Linked DNA regions of Homo sapiens. The protein of the gene in region 1 interacts with the protein of each later gene in a pairwise test. Each region holds a gene or a part of one and is shown in the gene's direction. Other genes may lie near its edges.

The links.
Region 2: the proteins of CERK (region 1) and PLEKHF2 interact in binary tests that used the Homo sapiens proteins (3 or more experiments, as listed by UniProt).
Region 3: the proteins of CERK (region 1) and KRT34 interact in binary tests that used the Homo sapiens proteins (3 or more experiments, as listed by UniProt).
Region 4: the proteins of CERK (region 1) and TRIM42 interact in binary tests that used the Homo sapiens proteins (3 or more experiments, as listed by UniProt).

Annotation. Positions count from the first base shown.
Region 1 is NC_000022.11:46,693,248-46,700,269, reverse strand, and holds part of CERK (ceramide kinase), read left to right. Parts: intron 1-804; coding exon 805-957; intron 958-4,954; coding exon 4,955-5,060; intron 5,061-6,766; coding exon 6,767-6,843; intron 6,844-7,022. UniProt on the Homo sapiens protein: Catalyzes specifically the phosphorylation of ceramide to form ceramide 1-phosphate.
Region 2 is NC_000008.11:95,128,785-95,136,784, forward strand, and holds the start of PLEKHF2 (pleckstrin homology domain-containing family F member 2), read left to right. Parts: upstream 1-5,000; 5' UTR 5,001-5,246; intron 5,247-8,000. UniProt on the Homo sapiens protein: May play a role in early endosome fusion upstream of RAB5, hence regulating receptor trafficking and fluid-phase transport. Enhances cellular sensitivity to TNF-induced apoptosis.
Region 3 is NC_000017.11:41,379,287-41,387,256, reverse strand, and holds the start of KRT34 (keratin, type I cuticular Ha4), read left to right. Parts: upstream 1-4,950; 5' UTR 4,951-5,006; coding exon of another isoform or gene 5,007-5,010; coding exon 5,011-5,358; intron 5,359-5,461; coding exon 5,462-5,544; intron 5,545-6,044; coding exon 6,045-6,201; intron 6,202-7,525; coding exon 7,526-7,687; intron 7,688-7,778; coding exon 7,779-7,904; intron 7,905-7,970.
Region 4 is NC_000003.12:140,674,124-140,681,064, forward strand, and holds the start of TRIM42 (tripartite motif-containing protein 42), read left to right. Parts: upstream 1-3,940; 5' UTR 3,941-4,106; coding exon 4,107-4,447; intron 4,448-6,941.

The DNA of each region.
Region 1 (7,022 bases):
AGGCACCTGCCACCACGCCCAGCTCATTTTGTATTTTTAGTAGAGACGGGGTTTCACCATGTTGACCAGGCTGGTCTCGAACTCCTGACCTCAGGTGATCCACCCACCTCAGCCTCCCAAAGTGCTGGGGTTACTTACAGGCGCGGGCCACCGCACCTGGCCTATTTTATTTTTTTTGAAACAGAGTCTCACTCTGTGTGTGGCCCAGGCTGGAGTACAGTGGTATGATCTCGGCTCACTGCAACCTCCGCCTCCCGGGTTCAAGCGATTCTCCTGCCTGAGCCTCGCCACTAGCTGGGATTTCAGGCACACGCCACCATGCCTGGCTAATTTTTATATGTTTAGTAGAGACAAGGTTTCACCATTCTGGCCAGCCTGGTCTCAAATTCCTGACCTCAGGTGATCTGCCCGCCTCGGCCTCCCCACGTGCTGGGATTACAGGCGTGAACCACTGCACTCGGCTTGATTTTGTATTTTAAAATGCCATGTACTTTTTCTTCATTCTAAAACCACCGTCCTTTCAGTTAAAGATATTTCATGAGCCTCACGGATACACTCTTGTTCAGTCCCCACAGGATAGCTCCCCGAGCCTGTTTTAGAAATTTGAGTGGAGTTCAGTCATTTGAATAAAAAATATGGCATCCAACACCCCAAGAGAGAGAATCCTTGCACTGAATGCGTTCTGTTTGTTTCACACTTTTTAAAAGTAACTCCCACGTTTGCAAAGTGCTATTGAAGGGGATGGAGTGGATGGGGCGGGGCTGGAGGGGGGCTGCCTTCCCTCACGGCCGTTCTCTCCCACAGGGGACTCGCTGGCCATGGATGTGTCCTCAGTCCACCACAACAGCACACTCCTTCGCTACTCCGTGTCCCTGCTGGGCTACGGCTTCTACGGGGACATCATCAAGGACAGTGAGAAGAAACGGTGGTTGGGTCTTGCCAGATACGACTTTTCAGGTAACTCAGAATAATGCAGACTCGCTCCCCGCTGGTCGTGCCCCGACTGCCTTCACAGATGTTACCTGACTGAATCCACTGAGCACCGTCAGAGGTGGGCCCCCACCTGCTCACAGACGGGAAGCTAAGGGCCTCATGAAATGTGCCGGGGCCAGAACGTGGCAGGGTCTGGACTGGAACCTGGATTGCTCTAAACCAGATCCTGCCCCCTGGACCCAAGCATAAGCCACAGAGTAGACACCATGACGGACGCAGTTCACTCCAGAACCCCAGGTGCTGGAACCCCAAGACGCCAGGCCACCAGCCTCTCACATCTGGTAGGCAGGTGACAGAGGCCACCCCAAACTGTTCAAGTGGAAGTATTAATTGGAAAAAAAATAGTTTTTAAAATATATTTTTTAAAAATTTTTTTGAGACACAGTCTTCCTCCGTCACTCAGGCTGGAGTGCAGTAGCACGATCACGGTTCACTGCAGCCTTGACCTCCCAGGCTCAAGTGATTCTCCCACCTCAGCCTCCCGAGTAGCTGGGACTACAGGCACATGCCACCGTGACCAGCTAATTTTTTTTTTTTTTGTATATTTTTGTAGACAAAGGGTTTTGCCCTGTTGCCCAGGCTGGTCTCAAACTCCTGAGCTCAAGCAATCTGCCCACCTCGGCCTCCCAAAGTGCTGGGATTACAACCATGAGCAACCATGCCTGGCCTGTAAAACAATAGTTTTATAATCACTCTGAGCTTATTAGTCAAAGTGGCAAGAACTTTGTGCAGAAATTCAGCCTGGGATATCTGTGTGGAAGCTCTTCTGTAACTTCAGGCACAGGTATCCTTTACTTCATTCAACAAGGTTGCGTGGTTTTGTTGGGGTTACACCGTAGCTAGCCATACAAGTGAGATACACTCAGCACGTATTTGTTGAGCCCCTGCTCTATGCCGGGCCTGGTTTTTGAGGCAGGGACGTGTCCATGAACAAAACAGGCAAGATCCTGCCTTCCTGCGGCTCGGCCGCAGTGGGCACAGAGGAGGAGGAGTGGGAGCGAATGCCACGCCGCACTCCCTGAAGCCCAAAAGCTTTCATTCTCCACAGTGCTCTTCTCACCCCAGCAGGTGCTCCTGCCCCACTTTATAGCGGAGAAAACAGGCACAAAGAGGTTGCCCGCATCCTGCCTCACTCTTTCTTGAGCCCAGTGGTCCTCAGACTGTGGTGGGCACCTGCATCCTCTGGAGGGCTTGGTAGAACCCAGGCTGCGGGGACCCCCCAGAGCATCCAACACGGCAGGTCTGGGTGGGCTTCGGAACATGCAGGTCCTCCAGGCTCCCGGGGCTGCTGCTGGGGCCTCGGGCCAGGCGGCGGTGACCTGTTACCCGACCACAGAGTTTAGAATGAACCAGAAATGAAGGCTGGTGCCAGTTCAGACACAAGAGTTGCAGTCTGCACACATCAGGCAGTGGGTGCGACGTCACCAGCTTTTAAACGCTGGAAAAGGAGAACTTTAAAAATACATAGAATTGGCCAGGGGCAGTGGCTCACGCCTGTAATCCCAGCACTTTGGGAGGTCAAGGCAGGTGGATCACCTGAGGTCAGGAGTTCAAGACCAGCCTCGCCAACATGGTGAAACCCTGTCTCTACTAAAAATACAAAATAAGTCAGGCATGGTGGTGCACACCTATAGTCACAGCTCCTCGGGGGGCTGAGGCAGGAGAATTGCTTGAACCCGGGAGGCAGAGGCTGCAGTGAGCTGAGATCGTGCCACTGCACTTCAGCCTGGGCAACAGAGCGAGACCTCTGTCTCAAAAAAAAAGAAAAGTAGAATTTCAGCCTGGGCGACATAGGGAGACCCCATCTCCACAGAAATTAAAAACAAAATTAGCCGGGCACCCCAGTTACTCGGGATGCTGAGGCAGGAGGAGCCCTTGAGCACAGAAGGTGGAGGCTGCAGTGAGCAGAGATCAGGCCACTGCACTGCAGCTGGAGCGACAGCCAGACCCTGTCTCAAAAAAAAAAGAAAAGAAAGAAAGAAGAAAATATGTAGACCATGAGGTGTGCCATTCTCGCTGCCCGGTCGACTTTCCCGCCTCTTTACAGTTCGCTTTCAGATAAATCTGTATCAAATTAAATCGAGTAATTCCTGATACTAAAATCTTAACCCTTATGAGAGAAAGAAATAGTGATTTGGCAAACTTTACGAAGCTTGAAAAGATTTAATGAAATTAAAAACTAGTGTGGCTTGAAAATTAAAACCTAAGAAATGGCAAAGTGAGGTATTTATCTAAGGCTTATTAAGAAAGGGAATACCGAGAAAATTAGAGAAGCCGCGAGAATTTTAGGAAGCGGTTTGGGTTGTGCCATTCTCCCGACTGCCCTTTGTTGAGCCCAGTGTGGCTCTGCCTAGAATGCCCCTGGGATGCCCCCTCCCTGTCCCTGCCTGCTGGGGTGGGGTGGTGGGCAGCCCCCCTGCATGCCTGGCCCCCCCCTTTGCCCTCAGCCCATCACCACAGGCAGTGGCTGCAGCTCTGTCCCTCCCACCAGGATGAGAGCCCCGAGGCAGGAGACGCCTTCCGGGTCTCTGGATCCCCATCCTGGCCACAGGGCCTGAGATGCTCTCAGGAAAGCGGGTTTGGGTTCTGTGGCTGTGAGGCAGAAAGCACCCGGTTGTTCTGGAGCAGCACAGAGGGCATGGAAGGAGAATGAGCGTGTGGAAATGACACACTCTGTTGAGACACGTGGAGTTTTAGGTGCCGGTAGGACATCTGGGGCCCATCTAGGGGCAGACAGAAACCGGGACATCAGATGTCGGTGAGGCGCCACCCTGGAGGCTGCGTCTGGGTGATGAGGCAGCTGCCCCCCTGCCCCCTGCACTTGAGAGAGGAGCCGGCTTGGAAGGTTGCTGACCAGTGGGTCGGCCTCCTCCCAGGGCCGTGGACACGACGTCCTTGTGGGACCCCCATGGGAGGAGCAGGGAGAGAGGCCAGAGCCACTCTGCAGGGAGGCGGAGCTGCAGCCACCTGGAAGGGCCCGCCCGCTGAGTGCATTCCAGGCACCTGGCCCATGCCAGGTGCAAGACCCACAGACGGGGCTGTCCTAGGGACAGTCGGGAGCTGACTTTCAGGCACACAGATGTCCTAGGAGCCAGACTGCTCTTGCCGGCAGCTTCCCCCACCCCTGGGCGGTGCACACTTGGCTGTGGGCTTGCCATCTGCGGATGAGGATGTGAGGCCTCTGTGTGTCGGGGGTAAGGTTGTGTGTGACGGCCCTGCAGGCCGTCACTGCCACACCAGATGTCATACAGGGCAGCACCAGCCCCAGCATCAGACACGGAGGAGTGAAGTCGCCCTGAGACTCACAGGACACGGCCTGGCTCCTGGTGTGGCCCACGACACCCTGGGGCCCCTCTCCTGCCTCCTGCCCAGTCCCTGCTGTCCTGCTGGGTGGTGTTTCCCAGACAGCCCGGGTGCCAGGCTGCTGGCAGCCCCGTGGACAGCGCACACGTTTGCCTGGAGGGTGGCCCCAGACTTTGGGTGGCAGCGGCCCTGGCCTCTGTCCTGAGCTGTTCAGGACGTCACAGGGGCTGTGGCTGACCCCAGTGGGGGCCAAGCCCTGAGGCAGGTGGGGGCATCACTGACCCTCATGAAGAGGTGGAGGGGATGACCCTGAGCCACTGGAGCCCACAGGCCACATCATCGAGGCTATGAGGGGTGGCTAATGGCAAAGGCCCCACTTTGCCAGCGTCAAGAGTGGCCATAGCCCTGGCTGTCCCAGCATCACTGGGTGTCAGAAGGCACCAGCACTATGACTAGACGTGCTGTTGTCCTGAGGGAGGGCAGAGACCCTGCCACTGCCTTCAATGGTGACATGGCCTGAAGCAGGCCCGGCCTCTCCCTCCTGCAGACGGTTTAGGCAGATGCGCGCTCAGCGACATTTCTGAAGCTGCCCAGCACAGCATCCTAACCAAGCAATGACCCTTGTGGATGTTTTTTCTTCACTGCACTCTGTTCCCAGGTTTAAAGACCTTCCTCTCCCACCACTGCTATGAAGGGACAGTGTCCTTCCTCCCTGCACAACACACGGTGGGATCTCCAAGGGATAGGAAGCCCTGCCGGGCAGGGTAAGTGCATTGCTTTGTGTGTTTCTCTTGCAAATGACGGGAAATGAAGCAGGACGGTTAGGAAGGTGAATGCAGAAGTATTTTCCAAATGTGGTGGAAGGTGCCGGATGTAGCGTGCCCAGACACACGATGCCTATGATGCCCATGATGGCCTAGGCGTGCATGGGGCTTGCTGTCCCCATCTCTGTCCCCATGGCCTGCGCAGGCAGCTGCTGCTGTGCCAGGGATGAGGACTCTGGGGGAGGGTCCCACACCCACTGTTGGAGTGGGGGCTGAGCACAGGGTCTTTCCCTGCTGGGGTTCCCTTTACCCCCTGCAGGGGCCTGATGGAGGAGAAATGCAGGCAGGAAAGGATGGCAGACACCTTATCAGTGACTGTGCGTGTGCAGGGCACTGGTGGCAGGACCGTTGGTAGAGCTGGCTGAAGTGTGCACTCTCAGCAGCCACCCTCCTGTCCACACCCCTGGCTGAGACCCTCACCCATGTTAGCCCCATGCTCCAAGGCAGGAGCCCACTCTAAGGTTAGCAGAGCCCAGGCCAGCCACGCCTTCAACCCCACAGGAAGGCAGGGACCCTCAGCAAGAAGGCTCGGGCTGGCAACAAGGGCTGGTGCCAGGGGTTGGGGGGCAGAGCCAGGGCAGCTGCCCAGGGAGAGGGGATGCAAAGGGAAAGAGGCGCCCCACCGGGGAGGGGAGGCTGAGTGCAGACAACACAGCTGGAAACGCTGCGCTCTCCCCTTACATTTGGTCCCCCAGTTTGGCCACTGCAGGCTCTGCAATGGTGGCTACGCCACTGAACAAGCAGGGACTCCTTTCACCTGGCATATCTCCGCCCCCACCCCCACACAGTGTATTCAGTAATATGCGACCAGTGTAAATAGAACCTTAAATAAATCTAAACATAGTTGTCCCAGGCCGCATGACCTCCCTAGTGACCATGGAGGGCGCCTGAATGGTCATCCTGTCTCTGCTCTGCCTGGGGCTGAGGACACGGGGCTGTGGAGACAGCTGCGCCTTTGTGAAGGACACTCACGTCCTTTCCTTTTAAGTCATGCAGACTTCAGAACCTCCTTCTAGCTCCTTTCCTTTTTTAAGTGAAGAATTGGAGACCATAAAATCAGAATATGTAGAGGCAGATGCTGTTTGCGTCAGTGCATTAAAGAACTCGGCTGCTGATGAGCGATTTCCATCAGTGCAAACAGTGTCCTGTTTGACAGCGTGAATCCGGCAGCCCCCAAGATCAGAAGGACGTGCTAGACGAATGACTAAGTTCTAAGCTGATGGTTCTGAGTTATTTGCTTGTTATTGACTGTAACAGATAAACCCTGTATGATTTGTTTTCTGAAAGTAAATGAGTCCTCACCCCAGGAGTCCGCTGGGGGAACCAGTGCCTCAGTCATTTCTCCCAGCCAGGCTATGTTAGCTGGAGGGCCAGGCAGAAACCGTCTCCAGGTGGCACCTCAGCGTCCTCATGCTGTGCTTCTCCTCATGTCCAAACCTTTTAGAGAAGGACATGTTGAATGTGTCATTGTAAAAGTAGGTCTCATTCTGAAACCTCTAATTAATATGCCAAAAAATATTTTGTTAAGCCTTTGAAATGGAATTTTTTCGTATGTGAAAAGAATGTAAATACATCTATATGTGCCAAGCATACGCACTGCACCTGCAGCTCCATATTTAAAAGGTGATGATATTCTTGTCTTTCAGATGCTTTGTTTGCAGGCAAAGCAAGCAGCAGCTGGAGGAGGAGCAGAAGAAAGCACTGTATGGTTTGGAAGCTGCGGGTAATTCCTAAAACACAGGCTCAGTGTTGTCACTGTGTGTGCTGGAGTGCGGGTTTCTGTCCTCTCTCAGGGCACTGCCTCTTCTCCCTGCCCACCTGTGCTTTTCCTTTTTCCTGTCTGGCACCAGGCATCCATTTCTTCTTAGCCCCAGGCAGCGTCAGGTCACTGTTACTTGCCGT
Region 2 (8,000 bases), on another chromosome or scaffold:
TAATATTTTCCCAGAAGTTCAGGAAAATAGCCCCTTAGGATTTGAGCTGCATGTTCAAATTTATACTGGTATCTTAGTCCATTTGGGCTGCTATAACAAAATGTCTTAGACTGGGTAATTTATAAACAATAGAAATGTATTGCTCACAGTTCTGGAGGCTGGGAAATCCAAGATCAATGAACCAGAACAAATGGTGTCTGCTGAAGGCCTGTTCCTTACAGATGGCACATTTCTCACTGTGTTCTCATGTGGTGGAAGGGCACACAGGCTCTCTCAGGTCTCTTCTCTAAGGGCACTAATCCCATTCACAAGAGCTCTATCTTTATGAACTAATCACATCCCAAAGGCCCACCTCTTAAAACCAACCCATTGGTGATTATATTTCAGCACATGAATTTTAGAGGGACACAAACATTCAGAACATAGCAACTGGAGAATGACGGGTTCTGCTTTTCTTCTGCCTTTCAATCCTTATACATGTGTCTCCACTGGCAGAATTTAACCTGGAAACATTTAGAGTAAGTTCTCTGGAAAATAGAGTGCTAGGCTGTCTCCCTATAGGTACAGAAGAGAATGTAGAAGGGGGTGGCAATCATGCCGAGTTGACAACTGACAAGCTGGCACATGCTCCTGTTGGGGCCTATGGGTAGAAAGGAGAGGACAATGAGGTCCCTGGCCTCATGCAGGTTTCAGACTCCAGGGAGACCTGTAAGTTCTGTGAGGGAAACAAGCAAAGGGCTGTGACTGAGAGTAACTGAGGACATAGTGTCCAGGAAAGGCCTCTCAGAGGACTGAAACATGACAAGGAGCCGCAGCTATGTGAAGGGCAGAGACTGTGGAGTTGTGACTATCCAGGTAGAGAGGTGTCCAGGGCAGTGAGCGCCACAGCAGCTCTTTTGAGCTTGATTTATTTTAGGAAATGATGGAAGGTCAATGTGAATGGCAGTTGGTGGAGTGTAGCATCATTTTAAGTTGGAGGGGATGGCAGGGGCTGGATTGTGCTGGGTCTTGTAGAACCAGGTGATGAGCTGGTATTTCGTACTAAGTGAAAGAGAAACGCTCTTATTCTATGTGGCATGTCTGGGCAAATTAGATTTCCATCTTGTTGGAAAATTGTTGTAAGATAATTTTGTTAGAATGAGTCATTTCACTAAAATCTGCCAGAAAATATTCATAATAAATATTAAATTTCCAGTGCCTCCAATGTGAATGCACTCTCCCATAGGGTTGTTCTACCACAACTGTACAATTCTATATGGCAGCCTCTGTGGGGAGCCATGGAAATGTTTCTTCAGGGAGTGACACAATCCTGTGTGGCTCCTGTGTGGAGGGGCCAGGAGGAGAGGAGAACAGATGAGATAAAGTGTTTTGAAGGTAGATCCTACAATATTTTGGAGATAAAGAGATTGGATGGAGGACATGGGAAAAAGGATGACAGGATGATGGCTCATCAGGTTTGTGGATGGCAGTGCCGTTTTACTGAGATGGGCAAAACTGGGAGAAGACCAGCCTTTAAAAGTGGAGGGGACAAAGAAATCAAGGAGTAATTAAAATCCAGGTATTTGCCATCCTATCATTTCTTGAATGTTCTATTTTCAATTAAAACTTAACCAAACTATTCACTTTTACAAGATACACGTTAGATTCAAGAACAATAACGTGATCTTTTTTGCCTTTCAGGATTAAAGAATCGGGTTAGTCAGTCTTGGTGGTGCATGCCTGTAATCCCAGTTACTGAAGAGGCTGAGAGGGAGGATCCCTTGAGCCCAGGAGTTTGAATCCAGCATGGGCAGCAAAGCAAGACCCAATCTCTTATTTTCAAATGTAAAAAATTAAAAAAACAAATTGGGGAAATATAAACTCAAGTTTTACTAATCTTTTCAAGTTCCTCTATGTTTTAACAATGTGTCATACACTTTACACATTATCTTATTTCCTCCATTCAGCAGTTTATGAGGAAGTTCCTTTTTTTTTCTTTCTTTTTTTTTTTTTTTTTAAGAGAAAGGGTCTCCTTCCATCATTCAGGCTGGAGTGCAGTGGCTGGATCATTGTTCACTGCACTGCACTGCAGCCTTGACCTCCTGGGCTCAAGGAATCCTTCCACATCAGCCTCCTGAGGAGATGGGACTCCAAGTGCCCAGCTAATTTAAAAATTGTTTTGTAGAGACACAGTCTCACTATGTTCCCCAGGCTGGTCTTGAACTCCTGGCTTCAAGCAATCCTCCTGTCTCGACCTCCCAAAGTGCTGGGATTATAGGCCGGGTGTGGTGGTTTACACCTGTAATCCCAACACCTTGGGAGGCTGAAGCAGGTGGATCACTTGAGGTCAGGAGTTTGAGACCAGCCTGGCTAACATGGTGAAAACTCGTCTCTACTAAAAAGAAAATACAAAACATATCCAGGCATGATGGCACATGCCTGTAATCCCAGCTACTTGGGAGGCTGAGGCAGAAGAATCACTTGAACCTGGGAGGTGGAGGTTGCAGTGAGCCAAGATCACGCCACTATATTCCAGTCTGGGCCACAGAGTGAGACTCTTGTCTCAAAAAAAAAAAAAAAAAATTGGGCGGGTGGGAGGATGGGGCTGGGCGTGAGCCACGTGTCTGGCCAGTAATTCCTATTTTTATCTTCATTTTACGGTTGAGATGTGAGGCTCAAAGAGCTGTCTTATCACTTGACTTGAACAGGGTACCACAATTACAGGTTCGGGTAGGAGTGAATCTTACTTCCTTTCAGTGACTTTTGAGTTCCCTGCTTTGTTCCAGATTGGTCAGTGCTATCCAATAGAACTTCTGCAATGATGGAAATGTTTTATATGTGCACTGTCCAATAGTCATGTGGCTATTAAGCACTTGAAATGTGGTCAGTGTGACTGAGAAACTAAATTTTTAATTTAAATAAATTTACATTTAATTAAGACATGTGGTTAGTGGCTACTGTATTTGTTAGCACAGATCTAAATCAACGGTCTCCAAACTGGGGTGCACGCAGCCCAGGGAGGGCATAGACTATGAAGAGTACAGAAAGAAAACATACATATATATATTTAAAATCATTATTTCTGATTTTTTTGTGTGTGTATGTTGTTTTTTAATGTACCTAACATACTAGGTATATTATAATAGGTGTATGTGTGTATATAAATACACACTATATATATCATACATATAATTCTGTGTGTATGTGTGACTGGGTCTTGCTATGCTGCCCAGGCTGGATTCAAACTCCTGGCCTCAAGTGATCCTCCAGCCTCAGCCTCCTGAGTAGCTGGGTATATTACATATGTAACAACTTTTATTTCACACTTACGTAGCACTATATAAATGTGTATATTATGTATGTAATAATTTTATTTCACACTTGTAAAGCACTGTGTGCCAGGTATATGCTTTACATATATTAATTCATTTCATCTGCATAATGACTCTGTGATATACTTTTATTATCTCCATTTTACAAGTGAAAAAACCAAAGTTATCTTTGGATGTGCCAAGGTTGTTAGAGACAAAGCCAATGTTTGATTACAGTCATTCTGGCTTCTATCTATGCACTTTACTTAAGCTAAATAAGTACATGGGAAGTGAGGAGGGCAAACATTTTTACTAATGTGAGTGACCAAAAATATTTGATAACTAATGCTCTAGGCTTGACCTTAGACAACCAGTCAGACATAGCAATTCCTACTTTCAAAATTTAAAAGGATTTTAGGCATTATTTAGTCCTGCCTTTTCCCCACTGATAGATATTGCTGTGCACGTAGAGGTGAATGAGGTAGAGTGATGGTACGGACAAGCGTCCTGGTGACATCTGTACTCATCTAGAGACAACTCTAACACACGAAAGATTGTGTGTGTGTGATCATACAATTTTCCCCATTTAAAAAAAGTTCATCTTTGCCAATTTTGTTCTAATTATTAATTTAAAAAAAGACTTGTTTGTTTCAGAGACAAACTCTATTGAAATAGGGGAGGATAGGAGGCAACAAGCCTGGAGGAGGAAGATCCCAGGTGGAAGAGCAGGGCGGAACCCAAGTCTGCTCTCATCCCTAGGTGCTCATCCACGTGCAGCTTGGCTGGTAGTGACTCTAATTCAACAGCAATCAAACACAGGTTAAAACAACTTACTGAAGTAATAGATGAATAAGAAATATAAAATTTACCAAAACCCAATTTCCTCCTACACACCACACACACTTTGTTTAAAATAAGTATGCTGTTCTCCCTACTTCGCCCCCATCCCTAGTCTACCCTAAGCAACTTCGTTACCTCTCTACGAACCCATCAGAGCGCTTAGCTATCAGATCAATTAGGGCACATTTAACCTTATATACTATGCAATAATTACAGTTTCTAGGTATGTGAAGTAGGCTGATGGGGTTTTGTGTCGTCAAAGTTTTGGGAAGACCAGAATTCTAAAGTATGCATTTAAAAGAAAGGGCTGGGTGGAGCACGTAGGGTATGTGTGTGTCGCCGCAGTTCCCTTGGTTTCAAGAGGAGGGATTTTAGGTAAAGCAAAGGGAAAGTGTGACGGAAAGGATTGCTGTGCTAAATGGGAGCAGCAAATGCCAGTACCGATGCCTTTGGGCATTTAGATCCAAAGCCTGCCTTTCTCGTTCTTCAGTTCCCCGGGGAGGCCTGTTGTGGGTGGGGAGGTGTCTTCCTTCTATTATTCCAGTCTCCCTAAGAACTTCGTAGACAGTTGAGCAATACTTTCTAAGGGCTGGTCGGAGTCAGGAAAGTCAGGTAAGGCGCCTCACGTGCACCTCAACGCGTCGCGGGAGCGCGTCCCGACCTCACACATGGACAAGCTCCGCCCGCGGCCGGCCTGAGTGGGTGTGGCCTCCGCCAAAGGCCCCGCCCCTAGAGCGCGTCGCGAGGGGCGCGAGGGGCGGGGCGAGGGAACTGGCAAGAAAGGGCGGGGAGCGAGGGGTGTGGGTGTGCTCGTGCCCGCGCGCTCGCGCCCGGAGTGTGGACGGGGGCGCGCCCGTGCGCGCGCAGGGGAGAGGCCAGCCCAGGCAGCCGTTGTCGGGTTCGACTGGAGGGGCGGGGGAGTCACCTGCGAGCGGCTGCGCTGGCGGCCAGCCCGCCCACCGCGTCTGGATCGCGCCGGCTGCGCGGGGCTGCGGACAGCACACACCCTGGAAGGCCCCGGCGGGGAACGGGCAGAGTCCGCGCCCTGCGTCCGCGACCAGGAGGATCGGACCTTCGCCTTCGCTGTCGCCGCCGCCGCCGCCCGCGGCCGTCGGGGTAGGTGAAGCCCGGGTGGGTGGTCCGCCGGCTCCTGACGGGCCGGGAGGGGAGACGCGAAACTTTCCGGGCGCTTCCTCCCGCGGTCCCGGAGCCGTCGCAGCGCCGGGAGGTGTCGTCGTCGCGGGCGGTGGCGGCCGACGCCATGTTGGGGTCTGTGAGAAACGGGGCGCTCCCGGCCGCTCCCCTCGCGCCGGGGCCGGCCCGCGGGCCAGTTGCCGCCGCCGTCCCGCCAGCCCGGGAGCGAGCCGCGCCCGCCCGTAGGACGCCGCCGCCGCCGCGGGGGGACGGGGGCCGCCGGGTAGGGTCCGGTCCACGGGTCTGCGGGGCGGGGGCCGGCGGACGCGGGAAGGAGCCCCGAGGCCGGGCGAGAAGTTGTGGGGCCTGAGGACGGGGGTCCTGGACACGGCCGGGGGCGTCTCAGGGTCGCGACAAATTTCTGGCCGAAAAGTTTGCAGGGTCTGCGTGTCGGGGACCTTATGACCTGAACTACATATTTGTATGTCACTTGGGAGACGAAAATGGCCCCGCAGAACTTGCTCTGATAGAAGCGATGGTTTATTTATTTGGAGCCTTTTCAAGTTTTATGATCCTTTGACGAATTTATTTTTCTTTTTAAAAATGTGATTGAAGGCCGAGAGCGCGCTGCCGGTGTTGCTTGAATAGCCTTGTGTGCTCTCCGTACATTCCAGCAATAACTTGAGTGTGCGGTGGAAGTGGGTATGAAGGTTACAGACACCTAAGCCCTCCTCGGTAATTCATAGACTCACAAAACGCGTTGTTGATAAATGCCTTCTTTGTCGTGTTGTGTAGTACGTTGCTGAAGAGACTCATTAAAGAAAGATTTAGACAGAAACTTTGAGAGTCTTAAAGGCATGTGTTCTCTTAAGAATAAGAAGTGATCTTGACAGTTTGAAGTTTTTTTCCCCTCCCTTTAGTTTCTTAAGGGTGAATGCCTACCGCGTTTTGAGCATTTACTTTTTTTAAATACTCTGGCAGCTCGTGGGGTCTTCACGTTAATTCAGTATTAACGAAGGCTTCATTATAATCTCTTTGGGTCCCGACCACACGGGGAATGAATGGTATTAAGCTATTTATTTGGAAAGCACACGTAATCGGCCTCTAAATAAAACTAGTATAGTGACTAAGCTTCAGAAGAAAATATTCAGCCTCAGTAAATGAATCTAAATGATTTTTAAATAAAGACATCTTGCTTTAAAATTCTGTTAAATGAACTGAAAAGGCTCTTAAACACAAATACAGTAAGCCCTAAAACCCCAAATTCTTGGAGAATTTTACTTTTTAGATCTAAAAATACAGCTTCTGCTCATATTTGATTGTCAATTTCTTTTTCCTTTTTTCTCTTTTTCCTTCCTTCCTTTTCCTTTTCCTAGACAGGGTCTCTGTCTGTCGCCCAGGCTGGAGTGCAGTGGTGTCATCTCCGCTCACTGCAGCCTCAAACTCCCGGGGCCCAGGTGATCCACCTCGGCCTCCTGAGTAGTTAGGACTACAGGAGCGCATCACCACACCTGGCTAATTTTTGTTTGAATTTTGTGGAGAGAAGGTTTTGCCATGTTGCTCAGGCTGTATTGCCAATTTCTGTTGTTCTTAAAAATTCTTTTAGTTTTGCTTCATTGTCAAGTAAATGGCATTATAACATTTTTTATTTAGAAATGAAATTAACTAATTTCACAAATGTAGCAGCCAAACTGGTATTTAACTGAGATCTTATGACTCTGAAGCCTTTTCATTTTTCCTGTAGCATAACTTTGTAGGATACATAACTCAGTCTTCTGGAGCAATCTGTCCATCTCGTTTGCTCTTATCACTGCTCTGACTTGAATTTAGTTCTTCAGTATAAATACTTATTTCCCAGCGAGCTGATTTACAGGTGATCCTTGTGATGAAATTTTTTCCTTAAAAATACTTAAGCCTATACTCTTTGAAGCCTTTTCTGCTCTGTTCTCTCATTCCACTCCCTTGCCCTCTCCAGAAATCAATTAATTTCTCCCATGGTATTACTGTAAATATCGCATAGATTCTGTCATGACATCTCCTTGACAGCAGGCAACACATCGGGTCTGATTTGCCTCTTCATTCCCTGCATGCCAAGAACATAGCAGATGCTCAGGAAAGGTTTGAATGGATGAGTACACGTATGTTTGTTCCTTGTAAATATGCTTCATGAATTTCTTTTGAAATTGTAAATTCCATGAGCATCATAGTTAAATCTTCTTTGTAGTCTTTTTCCCAATACATGCCATCAACTCCATTAAATCCACAGATTGGTTTTTATTATATATACACACACACACACACACACACACACACACACACACACACATGTTTTGTTGTTGTTTTGTTGAGAATTTAACTTAGTACCTGAGTGAATTTTCGCCTGGGGGTACAGAACTTGAATATTTATGAAATTTCTAAGTAGATAATGGATTAAAGTATAATTACTGATGTATGAGAGAGAAGCCATGGATCATCAAAAGGATTATAATCATAATTTTAAGTGTGATTGAATGTATTTGAACTTGATGGAAATATTGTTAATGCTTGAAAAATTTAAAGGTCATATTTATACATTTAAGCTCTTGGAACAAATCTCATTATAGCTCTATCAATTATTGTTTTGCCGGAATTGTCTTAGAATTTTTAGAATGCCCTGCTTAATAGAAAGTATATGAAAAATTTTTTTGTTGTTGTTTATCTTTGATGAACCAGCTTTGTACATGAGCTGCCTGCTTA
Region 3 (7,970 bases), on another chromosome or scaffold:
CTCATGCTTGTAATCCCAGCACTTTGGGAGGCCGAGGTGGGTAGATCACTTGAGGTCAGGAGTTTGAGACCAGCCTGGCCAACAGGGCAAAACCCCATCTCTACTAAAAATATAAAAATTGGCTGGGCACAGTGGTGCGCAACTGTAATCCCAGCTACTCAGGAGGCTGAGGCATGAGAAATGCTTGAACCCAGGAGGTGGAGGTTGCAGTGAGCCGAAATCATGCCACTGCACTCCATCCTGGGCAACACAGCGAGACTCTGTCTCAACAAAACAAAACAAAAACAAAATAACCATAATTAAAGATGCTCTGCAAGGCCAGAAGAACAATACACAAAGTGAGAATTTTCAACAAAAAGGCAGAAAATACAAAAAGTACCAAACAGAAATCATGCTGCTGAAAAATACAATAACTGAATTGAAAAATTCAATAGAGGGATTCAATAGCACACTAAATCAAGCAGGAGATAGGATCAGTGAACTCAAAGTCAGGCCATTGGAAATTATCCAGAGGAACAAAAAGAAAAAAGAATAAAAAAGAGTAAAGAAAGCTTAAGAGATGTATGGGACATCATCAGGCAGACCAACATTCACATTAGGAAGATCCAGAAGGAGAAGAGAGAGAGAAAGTTTAGAAAACTTATTAAAAAAAATAATGGCTCAAAACTCCTGAAACCTGAGAAAGAACATTGACATCCAGATCCAGGAAGCCCAGTGTATCCCAAATAAGATGTTCAGATAAATCAAAGTGATACACATTATAATTGAATTGTCAGAAGTCAAAGACAAATAGGGAATTTTGAAAGCAGCAAGAGAAAAGTGACATCATGTACAAGGGAACCTCCATAAGGTAATTAATACATTTCTTAGCAGAAACTTTGCAGGCCGGAAGGACATGGGATAATATATTTAAAGTGCTGAAAACAAACCAACCAACCAACAAACAAACTGCCAACCAAGAATATCATTCCCAGTACAATTATCCTTCAAAACTGAAGGAGAGATACAGACTTTTATAGATAAACAAAAGCTGAGGTAGTTCATCATCGCTGGACCTGCCTTACAAAAAATGTTAAAGGAAGTTCTTTAAGTTGGAACAAAAGGATGTTAAACAGTAATATAAATGCATGTGAAAGTATAAAACTTGCTGGTAAATGTAAATATACTGATAAATATAGACTACTGTAATACTATAATGGTGGTAGGTAAATCACTCTTTTAATTCTACTATAAAATTTATTTATTTATTTATTTATTTATTTATTTATTTATTTATTTATTTATTTTTGAGACAGAGTTTCACTCTTGTCACCCAGGCTGGTATGCAGTGGTGTGATCTTGGCTCACTGCAACCTCCGCCTCCCGGGTTCAAGCGATTCTCCTGTCTCAGCCTCCTGAGTAGCTGGGATTATAGGTGCCTGCCACCACGCCCAGCTAATATTTATATTTTTAGTACAGACAGAGTTTCTCCATGTTGGCCAGGATGTTCTCGAACTCCTGACCTCAGGTGATCTGCCCTCCTCAGCCTCCAAAAGTGCTGGGATTATAGGTGTGAGCCACCACACTTGGCCCTCTACTATAAAATTTAAAAGATAAAAGTATTAAAAATAACTATAACTATAAAAATAGGTTAATGCATATGCAATATAACAAGATGTAAATAATGACATCAATACATAAAAGATGTGTGTGGGAGAAGCAAAAGAGTAGTTTTTGTATGCAGTGAAAGTTATCAGCTGAAAACAGACAGTTATAAGTTGTTTCATATAAGCCCTATGATGATCACAAAAAAATACCTATAGAAGATACACAAAAGAAAAAGAAAAAAGAATAAAAACATATCGATACAAAAATCCATGCAACACAAAGGAAGACAGCAAGATAGGAAAAGAGAGACAAAAGAACTCTGAGAAAGACAAAAGAATTAACAAAATGGCAATATTAGTCTTTCCCTATCAATAATTTATTGAAATGTAAATGAATTAAACTCTCCAATCAAAAGACATGGAGTAGCTGAATGGATTTTCAAAAAACCAACAAGTACTATCTACATACTATCTAGAAGAGACTGACTTTAGATTTAAAGACAATGTATAGGCTGAAAGTGAAGGAATGGGAAAAAAAATATTCCGTACAAATGGTAACCAAAAGACAGCAGGATGGCTGTACTTATATATCAGACAAAATAGTCTTTAAGTCAAAAATTGTCACAAAAGGCAAAGAAGAACATTATATAATAATGAAAAAATTCACCAGGAAGATATAACAATTGCACACATATATGAACCCAACATCAGAGCACCTAATATATATATAACAAACATTGACAGAACCAAAGGGAGAAATGGACAATGCAATAATAGAAGAATTCAGTAACTCACTTTTGATAATGAATAGAACATTCAGATAGAAAATCAACAAGGAAACAACAGATTTGAGCAATACTATAGAACAAATGGACCTAACAAATAACACGTTCTATCCAATGGTAGCAGAATGCATATTCTCCAGTGCATGCGGAACATTGTCCAGGATAGATCATATGTTGGGTCACAAAACAAGTCTTAACGAATTTAAGAGGATTGAAATCATACTAAGTATCTTTTCCTACCACAATGGAATGAAACTAGAAAACTAGAACGGAAATAAGAAAAAAACTGAAAAATACACAAATATGTAGAAATTAAAAAACATTTAAATAATCAATGGGTCAAAGAAGAAATCAAAAAGGAAATTAGAAAATATCTTGAGACAAATGAAAATGAGAACACAACGTATCAAAATTTATGGGATGCAGCAAAAGCAGTACTAAGAGGAAAGTTTTATATATGTATATACATAAACCTATATCTAAACATACACACACGCCTACCATGTACCTACAAAAATTAAAAAATTAAAAAAGATAAAGAACAAACTAAGCTCAAAGTTAGCAGCAGGAAGGATATAATAACACTTTTTGCTCTAAATTTTATTATGATACTTACGATAAAACTTAGAGCAGAAATAAATAAAAATAGAGACTAGAAAAACAATAGCAAAAAATCAATGAAACAGAGTTTTTTTGAAAGACACAGAAAATTTACAAACCTCTAGATAGACTAAGAAAAAAAGAGGAAACACTCAAATAAATAAAATCGAAGATGTGCTTTTCTGCTCCTCTCATGCTGCTTTTGAAATTCAGATGCAGCCTTCTTTAAATGATTTGTATTGTGTTCCACAAATAATCTTTTGGGACTTCTTTCTGAAACATGACTTTGTTTCCCTGCGGAACAAAGGCAAGGTAGAGTGACAGGGAAAAGAAGTGAGGTAGGGAAGGCTATTCTGTGAAGAGTGATTATTGGGCAATAGAGAGGCTCCCTAGGTTATGCAAGAGTCAAAGGGTAACTGGATCCCAGAGGTGATAGAAGCACACTTATCAGAGACAGTGTCTACTTGTAGGGACAACAGAGTAAATCTGCATTCTCATGGGCACTGTGGCTTGTCCTGGAAGCATCTCAGGCTGGCATAGTCATACCTCTAGGAGAGTTAATACTCTAGAAAGAGGAACAAGTCTAGAAATAAGATGATAGAAATTTCCAGAGAATTTGAGAAAAAGCCACCATGGATACAAAGATACCTCTGAGCACCCTTGCTCCAATTTTCGTTTCTTGGTGAGTCTGCAGTATTATGCTTCATATTCATGCTTCAGTGCTGCCATCTGAACTCTCACTGCTCCAGACTGTTTCCAGCATATTTTTTCTTCTAGATATTTCTACTCTTGCTCATCTTTAGAGAGGCTGTTGCTTTAGTACAAGTTGGCAAATTTTTTAATTTTAGGGCTTTGTGGACACTATAGTCTCTGTCACAACTACACAACTCTGCCACTGTAGCACAAAAGCAGCCATATACAATAGCTAAACAAATGGGCATGGCTGTGTTCCATTAAAACTTTATTTACTGCCGGACGCATTGGCTCACGCCTGTAATCCCAGCACTTTGGGAGGCCGAGGCGGGCGGATCACGAGTTCAGGAGTTCAAGAGCAGCCTGGCCAACATGGTGAAACCCCATTTCTGCTAAAAACACAAAAATTAGCCGGGTGTGGTGGCGGGCACCTGTAATCCCAGCTACTCGGGGGGCTGAGGCAGATAATTGCTTGAACCCGGGAGGTGGAGGTTGCAGTGAGCCGAGATCGTGCCACTGCACTCCAGCCTGGGCGACAGAGTGAGACTCTGTCTCAAAAAAAAAAAAACAGAAAACAAACAAACAAAAACTTTATTTACAAAAATTCAGCAGGGTAAACTTGACGTGTGGGCTGCCATTTGCAGATGCCCTCTTTTAGGTATACTCCCATCCATTCCATTGGTTTCCATTTTACTTTCTCATTTCTCAACCATGAACATGCCATTGTTTTCAGTTGCTCCATGTGTTGGCAAGTTCCCTAAACCCCAACGAATAGTAAGGCTCAGGATCATTTCGGCGAATACAGGTTGAGTTTCTGCTATAAAAACAAATTGAATGCTGAAACATGGATGAATGTGGGAGGAAAGAGCTACTTGGAAGAGTAACTCTCAAAGCTCTCTCTCAGAGCTCTCTCTCTGGGGAGAAAGAACAGTGGCGGAAACTCCTGGGTGAGGAATCCCTGATTCCCAAACAACTCCACCCCATGTCCCTGGCTGTCCTCCCCTCTGAGTAATGCAGACAGCCTTTTGGGGCTGTGATGATTCTATCTCCTATGAAGCCATCTGATGAAACTCTGATTTCACCAACCACTAGCACCCAGGAAGAGCCTGGTGTGACATAAGCTGAATGGAATAATTTTATGGGTTGAGGGGGGACTCTTTAGAAGCATCTAACTAGCATATTTTGGAGAAAAATTAGCTGAAGCATTAGGAAAGGAAACTATGCTGTATGCCAAGCCCCCACCCACAATTAATGGTATAAAAGGACTGCAGAGGAAGGAGAGACTCAAACCTGCCCACATCCACCTCCAGCAGCTTACCTGCTTTTCCATTACCTGTTCCAGCACCATGTCTTACAGTTGTTGCCTGCCCAGCCTGGGCTGCCGCACCAGCTGCTCCTCCCGGCCCTGCGTGCCCCCCAGCTGCCACGGCTACACCCTGCCTGGGGCCTGCAACATCCCCGCCAATGTGAGCAACTGCAACTGGTTCTGTGAGGGCTCCTTCAATGGCAGCGAGAAGGAGACTATGCAGTTCCTGAACGACCGCCTGGCCAGCTACCTGGAGAAGGTGCGTCAGCTGGAGCGGGACAACGCGGAGCTGGAGAAACTCATCCAGGAGCGGTCCCAGCAGCAGGAGCCCTTGCTGTGCCCCAGCTACCAGTCCTACTTCAAGACCATTGAGGAGCTCCAGCAGAAGGTGAGGGGGTTGGCCATATGGGGGGCCAGCAGCAGCTGGCTCTCTTTGAACAGTAAGACATTTTCAAGTTCAAGTGTACCTCATGAGAGAAATTTCTTTTCAGATTCTGTGTGCCAAGGCTGAGAATGCCAGGCTGGTGGTGAACATTGACAATGCCAAGCTGGCCTCTGACGACTTCAGAAGCAAGTATGTTGAACTTCAAGGTCCCTATGGTTCTTTCATGGCCCTAGGGACCTACTATTGCCTGGAAGAGAGGAGAAAGCCATTTCTCTCTATTTCTCCTCCTAGGGCTGGTTATGTAAAATTAGTTTCAAATAGGGAACTAGACTCATGTGCTGCCTGCTCTTTGGTCTATACTGGTTTTTTTTGGAAGTGTTTCTTAAACCACAAAATTCAGAGATTGAAATGAATTGTTCTTTGGGAATTGATTTGGTGGTATATTAGCTAACAAAACCGAGAACACAGTGAGAGACTTCATCTCATGTGTGCCTGTGGGCTCCTCGTGGTGTTAGGTGAGTCAGGGAACCTCTTCAGCCTATCCATGGACAGCTTGACTGAAGCATATGGAAGAGAAGAGGCAGAAAACTGTAAGTTCAAGAAGATTCAGGCCAATTCTACCCAAACAACACATGAGAGGGGAAGGTGGTTTTCTTTCCTGACTTATCCTCCCACTCCGACACGTGCAGGTACCAGACGGAGCAGTCCCTGAGGCTGTTGGTGGAGTCGGACATCAACAGCATACGCAGGATCCTGGATGAGCTGACCCTCTGCAAGTCTGACCTGGAGTCCCAGGTGGAGTCCCTGAGGGAGGAGCTGATCTGCTTGAAGAAGAACCATGAGGAGGTATGAAACAAATTCACAAAAGCAGGCCTCAGAACTAAGCTACTAGCACTGGGAATCAGGAGAGGATTACTGTCTGGATCCCTGGTCTGGGACCCTTCTCTGAGGAACTCAAGATGTTCTCAGAGAGTGACGGTGCTACATCCATATCAAGGAGTGGAGTGAGCTGCTCATTCTTCAGCGGCTGGGTGAGGGTTAGGCAGGTGTTGGAATTACTGAGGAGGGACATCATTCATTGAGCCCTGCTCTCTGCTGATCACTGCTAGGTCCTGAATTTGGTGGTGGAGATGGAGGGACAAAAAAGAAATAAGACATGGCCCTTTTCTTAAAAGAGCTCACAGTCTAGTATAGAAAGACAGTCATATAAACACAGTGATATAAACAAGACAGAGTGAAACAAGTACCATATGAGATGTACAAGCAGTATGCTCTAGAAATAATCCAGGCTGCCCAAGAGGAGATAGGGAACTCTTCTCAGATGCAAAGAGGAGGATTCCAGTACTTGGGTGTTTCAGTCTGAGGGAAGAGGTTGAACAAAGACACAGAAGTGGCAGGGCAGGGTGTATCTGGGTATGGCTGGGCATGCAGTACCTCCAAGGGATGAAAGTGAAGATGTGATGGGAAGCGAGGAAGGACTTGCATATGCCAAGGAGTTTAGACTTAGTCTTGTAGAAGGTGTGAGGTTGTTTCCGTTTCTATGGGACAACAATTGACGTGATCCCTGTTGGAGTTTATTGCTATAAAATGTGTGTGTCACTCTTTGGGAATGATCAGAATCTTCCTTTTAGTGCTTTTTTTTTTTTGACGGAGTCATGCTCTGTCACCAGGCTGGAGTGCAGTGGCGTGATCTAGGCTCACTGTAACATCCGACTCCCTGGTTCAAGTGATTCACTTGCCTCAGCCTCCTGAGTAGCTGGGATTACAGGCACATGCCACCACGCCCAGCTAATTTTTGTATTGTTAGTAGAGATGGGGTTTCACCATGTTGGCTAGGATGGTTTCGATCTCCTGACTTCGTGATCCACCTGCCTCTGCCTCCCAAAGTGCTGGGATTACAGGCTTGAGCCACTGTGCCCGGCCCCTTTTAGTGCTTTCTGGGCAGCATCAAGCTCATTTTCCCAGAGCAGGAAGATGGCACATCTTCCATGGGACAGCAATTGATGTGATCCCTGTTGGAGTTTATTGCTATAAAATGTGTGTGTCACTCTTTGGGAATGATCAGAATATTCCTTTTAGTGCTTTTTGGGCAGTATTGTGCTCATTTCCCTGGAGCAGGAAAATGGCAGATCCATTGCCGTAGGTTCATTGTTTCCCTTTTCTCCAACAGGAGGTTAACACCCTGCGCTCCCAGCTTGGAGACCGCCTCAACGTGGAGGTGGACACTGCCCCCACTGTGGACCTGAACCAGGTCCTGAACGAGACCAGGAGTCAGTATGAGGCTCTGGTGGAAATTAACCGCAGGGAAGTGGAGCAATGGTTCGCCACGCAGGTGGGCATCTAAGCACATGGCCACTCAGGACCCGAGGTGCCCCAGGGCCCTGGAGACAGGGTCTGATCCTTTCCCCACTTGGGTGTTTCAGACCGAGGAGCTGAACAAGCAGGTGGTATCCAGCTCAGAGCAGCTGCAGTCCTGCCAGGCGGAGATCATCGAGCTGAGACGCACAGTCAACGCCCTGGAGATCGAGCTGCAGGCCCAGCACAACCTGGTGTGTATTGTTCAGACCTGCTGGTGAGCGATGGGAACTTGGGAGGCAGAGTCCCGGGGATGTGCT
Region 4 (6,941 bases), on another chromosome or scaffold:
TTTATAATCCTTTGGGTATATACCCAGTAATGGGATTGCTGGGTCAAATGGTATTCCTAGTTCTAGATCCCTGAGGAATCACCACACTGACTTCCACAATGGTTGAACTAGTTTACAGTCCCACCAACAGTGTAAAAGTGTTCCTATTTCTCCACATCCTCTCCAGCACCTGTTGTTTCCTGACTTTTTAATGATCACCATTCTAACTGGTGAGAGATGGTATCTCATTGTGGTTTTGATTTGCATTTAAGAGAAACCAATTTTTCTACAAATTAATTTGAGTGCCATTTTGTTCCTACCAGGAACTTGATGGGAATCACAGGTTCCTGTATATTTATAAACCGTATATTTACTTCAGAATAATAAATCATATTGTCTTAGTCTGTTAAAAAATTTCTCAACAGAATACTAGCAATCCAAATCCAACAAAATATAAAATTACATCATTATGAAATGGGATTTATGTCAGGAACAGAAAATTGACTCAACATATGAAAATCAAATAATTAATTTGATTATTAAATTGACTCAGCATATGAAAATCAAATAATACAACTGAATCTGATAAAAGGACATCTGTAAATAACCGACAGCGAATGCCATAGTTAATGTTGAAAAACTAAAATTTTTTCCCTTAAGATTAGGAACAACACAAGGATGTCCACTCTTGCCAATTCTATTTAACATTGTACTTGAAGATCTAACCAGGGAAATTAGGCAAGGAAAATAAAAAAGGGCCATCTAAATTAGAAAGGAAAAACTGAAAATATCTTTATTCACAGATAACACAAAGTTATATATATAAACCCTTTAAAATAAATTTTAAAAATAGAGCTAATAGTGATTTCAGCAAGGTTGCAAGATATACACAGAAGTCAATATAAATGGCCCTATTAAAAATCAGTTGTATTTCTACACACTAACAATGAACAATCCAAATATAAAGAAAATCAATTTTATTTACAGTAGCATCAAAAGAATGAAATGCTTAGGAATAAATTTAACCATATAAGTGCAAGACCTGTACAATGGAAACTACAAAATATTGTTGAAAGAAATTAAAGGTGACCTAAATAAATAGTGAAATATTCTGTGTTCGTGGATCAGGAAACTTAACATGGCAATTCTCCCCAAATTTATCCACAGACTTAATGCAATAGCTATCAAAATTCTAGTGGACTTTTGCACAAAAAGTAGTAGTGCTGATCCTAAAATTTATATGAAAATACAAGATAATGTTAAAACAGAAACAAAAGTGGAGTACTCACACTTTCCAATTTCAAAACATACTACACAGCTGCAGTAATCAAGATGGTGTGGCTAGCACAAGGATAGACATATAGATCAAAGAAATAGCATTCAGAGTCCAGTAATAAATCATATATCTATGGTGAGTTGATTTTCAACAAGGGTTTCAAGACTACTCAATGGGAAACAATAGTCTTTTCAACAAATGTTGCTATGGCAATTGGATATTCACATGCAACAGAATGAAATTGGGCCCCTAACTCCCACCAAATACAAAAACAATTCAAAATAATTCAAATACCTCAGTGTAAGAGCTCAAACTATAAAGCTATTTATTATAGGATTACATAGGTGTAAATCTTCATGGCCTTGGATTGGGCAGTGGTTTCTTAAATGACACCAAATGGGCAAGCTACAAAAAAAATAGAGATAAATTTGACTTCATCAAAATTAAAACCTTTTGTGCTTCAAAGGACACCATTTAAAAATGTAAAGACAACCATAGAATGGAGAAAATAGATGCAAATCATATCTGGTTAGGGTCTAGTATCTAGCTAATACAAAGAGCTCTGACAACTCAACAATAAAAAGATATTAACTCCATTTTTAAATGGGCAAAAGATTTAAATAGACATTTCTCTAAAGAAGGCATACAAATGTCCTATAAGGACATGAAAAGATTCTCAACATCACTAGCCATCAGGGAAATCCAAATGTAAATCACAAAGAGATCCTACTTTATACCTACTATAATAGCTATAATCAGAAGAAAAAAAAGACAAGAAGTTTGGAAAACGATGTGGAGAAATGGTAATTCTCATACATTGCTGGTGGGAATGTAAAATTGTGCAGTCACTTTGAAAAACAGCTTGGCATTTCCTCAAAAAGTTAAACATAGGGTTACCATATGATCCCACACCTAGGAACCTACCCAAAAGAACTGGAAACATATTTCTACAAAAATGCTCACACAAAAAAAATGTATACACAAATGCTCACAGAAACATTTAAACATTTAACAGCTAAAACGTGAAAACAATCTAAATGTCCATTAACTGACAATGAATACAATGTGGTATATCCATGTGAAATTATTCAGCCATAAAAAAATACTGATACATGCTATAACACAGATAAACCTTGAAAACATTATACTAAATTAAAGCCAGACACAAAAGCCACACATTATATGATAGCATTTATATGAAATCTCCAGAATAGACAAATCCATAAATACAGAAAAGTAGAGTAACTGCTAAGGGCTGAGGGAAAGGAGGAACAGGGAGAGACTGCTAATGAGTGTTTTACGGGGGTGATGAAAATATTTTGGAATTAGATAATGGTGAGAGTTGCACAATTTTATGAATATACTGAAAACCATTTAATTGTTTACTCTAAAATGGTGACTTTAATGGTAAGTGAATTACATATTAATAAGTTTTTAATAAGACCTTATAGAAACCAATAGTGAAAATGTATCATAAATCTGGGAATGAAACTCTAACCTATGTGCCTGGAGGATGGAGAGAGAGATTGATAAAACTGAGTTTTGGCAAACGTGAGGAAAAGGAGTTTCACTTTTTTGAATGTTGTATGTTCCTTGCTGGTATTAACTGGCACATTTATTTGAGTAAGAAATTTAGCAGTTTGCCTTAAAAAAAGATAAAGGACATACCCTAAGAGCCGGGATTTTCACTTGTAGAAATCTAATATCAATGTGTGGCTGGCATAGTTGGCACTCAGTGATTTTCTCTATTATAAAGGTGATAACCATAGGGGGAGATACTAAATTATGCAGTAAATTCCTGCAGCTAAACTCAGCTCTCACTTCTGCTTCTTTTTCTAAAAACAAGACAGTATTCATACTATAATGTACTATGACCATGAAATTTCTGTTCTTTTAATCTTTGCAAGCTGCTTAAATGGGAAGGTGAAATTCTTCCCTAAAATATAGGGTCTTTTTTCTAGGAATACTGAGCATATACTAGCAGAACAGTTAAAGATTTAATGTAGAGTTCCAGCCTCTTTTTGGAGTGGGGGTAGGATGGGGAAAAGACAGAAAGCTTGAACCTCACCCAAACACCATGCAGCTACAAAAAACCCAAGAAATATTCAGAGTGACTTAAGTATAAAGCTTCATGAAAATGAGCAGCGACTATGCATTGATTGATAAAATCAATTACTACTGAAAGAAGTTCCTAAGTGAACCTATATATTTTTTTCTTTAACTCTTTCTCTGAATGGTGATATCTCTTTAAATATGGCATTGCTATTATTTGTAAACACTGTCCTTTGTTCAAATAGAATTCTATCAATTCCTCTAACATGTGGAAAACCATGTGAATCTACTTTTCTAATTAACCATACCCAAGCCTTTCAGTCTACGAAGACATAATCTGAAGTCCACTTGTCCAAATTGCAGGCAGAACACCAAACAAGGAGAAATAGCTTCAGAAATCTACTCCATTATCCAAAAGGTGACAAATGACAACTAAACTTCCAGGATGCTCATTGCATCACCACTCCTCTACAGCTGGTTCCATGGAAGCATGGAGTTTCCACCAACATACCAGCTACCACCCACAAGGCCGCATCCTGCTATCTACCTAGCATGGTAGAGAGACAGGGATTGTGACATAAGCAAATACCCTCAGACTGATATATGTAAATGCCAGCCTATGAGCTTCCTGGTAGGGACACCAGCTGTGAAGTCCTCATAACAGCCAACTTCTTGCAACTTTCAAGCTGACGGCCTCAGGAATGGGAGGAAGGACTCCTCCACTGGAGAACTGATAGCAGTATTCTGGTAGAGGAGGCATCAAGAGTCCTGGGAGGCCGGTGGTAATCATGTAGGCACCATGGAAACTGCTATGTGCGTTTGCTGTCCATGTTGTACATGGCAGAGATGTTGTCCTCAGTTATGCTCCTGTCTGTGCTGCAAGTTCATCTTCACCTCAGAGCGGAACTGCACCTGCTTCCCCTGCCCTTACAAAGATGAGCGGAACTGCCAGTTCTGCCACTGCACCTGTTCTGAGAGCCCCAACTGCCATTGGTGTTGCTGCTCTTGGGCCAATGATCCCAACTGTAAGTGCTGCTGCACAGCCAGCAGCAATCTCAACTGCTACTACTATGAGAGCCGCTGCTGCCGCAATACCATCATCACTTTCCACAAGGGCCGCCTCAGGAGCATCCATACCTCGTAAGTGCCAGGCACCAGATGTGGGGCCGCATTGGGTCATGAAAACTAGGGACCACTTGCCAGCTGTGAAGTCTACAGGGCAGGCCAGTGAGCCTCTGAGTTCATTTCTTTATCTAAAAGGAGGAGCCAAGAATTTTGTAGCAATTAATTGTATCCTAAATGGTCACTATGTATGTAGACCATGAGCTCCAAATCTAAGCGCCATTAACTATGTAAATGAGCACTTCACTCTTCTGAACCCCAACTCTCTCATCTGTACAAAACAGTAATAGCTAATACTTAGTGCTTAAGGAACTTGCCAGGCACTTCATGCATGACCCCAGCTAACCCCTCACCCTAAGTCCACTGTTTCCATGAGGAAACTGATCCTTTGAGAAGTTAAGTAGCCCCAGGATCACACAGCTGGAAAGATACAGAGTCAGGATTGGAACCTAAAATTTGGGATCTTAACTTTAAAATGCTGTATTGCAAAACGGAGACAATACCCCCCCCATGATATTGTAGATATAAGGATTAATGTATGTGCTTTGTAATCTGTATGTGATATAAAAATATAAATTGCTCTTTCTCTTCCTATGAACTCTTAATACCTGTAACTTTTAATGGAAAAGAAAGAACTTCTATGGGGCACTTTTGACCCTGCGGACCATATAAATACCCCATACATCCATGAACTCCTACTACCTTCTTTTTCCCATCCAGAAGTCATAGTACTTAGGGTCTCAATTATTCATTTGGAGTGCTAACCCTTCATATCAGGTCCTACATTATCCTCACCTGCTCTACCAAACCAGTCTTTTTATGTCACACATGAGGGGAGTCTGAAGTAGTAAGAGCACACTTCTTAGAAGCGGAAAGATGACAGCACCATAAGATGACAGGATTAGAAGAGGCAGAAAAATGGAAGGCCAGTTTGAAGGCTTTCAAGCCTGGAAAAGCAATTCTGTGAGCAAAGGTTTGGTGAATTCAGGGGAAAGATATTATCCATCTTGCAATTAAACATTTAGTAGATGCTTAACAAACATAGCTCTCCACCCATGACCCTCTCATAGTGTTTGCATAAATAGGAAATCCAGGGATTCTCGATGCAAGTCTAGAAATCCTAAAACATGGAAAATTGTGTCCACACTCCTCTCTCAACTACCTGTTGTTCAGTTGTGCAACAGCAACTGAACCTCTGAGCCCATTTCAACAGGAAAGGGATAAAATTGGTGCTTTAGGAAAATGCCTTAGGCTCAGTAGCTCCCCAACGTTACTGTGCATTGAAGTCACCTGAGGATCTTTTAAAATTACTGATGCCTGATCCCCACCCCCCCAAACATTGATTTTATTGGTCTGGGGTACCATCTGAGCATCTGAATTAATTAGAATCAACCCCCCCACCCCGCTTCAGGTGATTCTAATGTGCAGAATGGCCTGCAGGAGGCTAGGAGGGAAGCCAGGAGATTTGATAGGTGGTACAGTAAGAATCCAGGTGCAAGAACAGGCCTGATTTTGGGAGACAGAGGGGGCTGTGCAGAGGAGCAGAGACAGGATATCTCAGCAAGAAGATAAAAGCGCTGGGCTTGATGACTGTTTTGAAATGGAACCATGGCCACTGAATGCCCCGTCCAAGCCTGAGGCTTTTGGAGGATGGGCAGGGATGCTACCACAAGTGTTAGGAGGTCGGCTCTGGGTGCTTTTCTTCAATCTGGCCTCTCTCCTGGCTTCTGACCCTCTGCCTCCCCTGCTTCTCATCACCACCTTCTGCTCAGCACCTTACTTGTCCTGCCTCACTCTGGTCTCATTCATCCCTCTCCATCTTAATCTTTTTGTCACTTCCTTTTTCACCCCTAACACAGCTCCCTAGGCCATTAATACCTGTCTCTTAGCCCTGAGACCTCTTTCTCATCCTCCAACACCTCCCTCCCCCACTTCTTCTTTCTTTTTTGTGAAAATGCTAGTTCATGAGCTTCCTAGTAGAGATACCTCCTGTGAAGGCCTCATAACAGCCTCTCTTTATATTATACCTTGATTCTCCAGGCCTTACTTTTTTAAGCAAACTAAAGTCCATCCAGGCACTACATGGACAATTAACCTGTACCACCAGGTGATCCCTTCAGGACCCATGCAGGAATCTGGGAAAGCAGAGAGGAAATAGAGGTGAGAACATCGAGGCCAGCATGCCTAGAGCTCCCAGATCCCTAAGGGACAAATTTTCCAGGTGCCTTAATATACACAGGGAGCATTCTCTGTCACCACAGGGCCACTCCATTCCAATATACTTGGGAAGCACCTGTGACTGTCAGGACTCAGACATAGGCTCCTGGCCAAGGGAGCAGGGAAGACAGGGACACATAAGGAATGCAAGAAGACAAAAGCAAAAAGGAACACAGCCGCAATGTCGAGATTAGTATCCAAATATTATTATGCAAACAGAGGAGATAGCAATAGCAGCAAATTGTGTGCCTTTTACACCTCCATTCCCACAGCTATTTCATTTATTTTTATACAC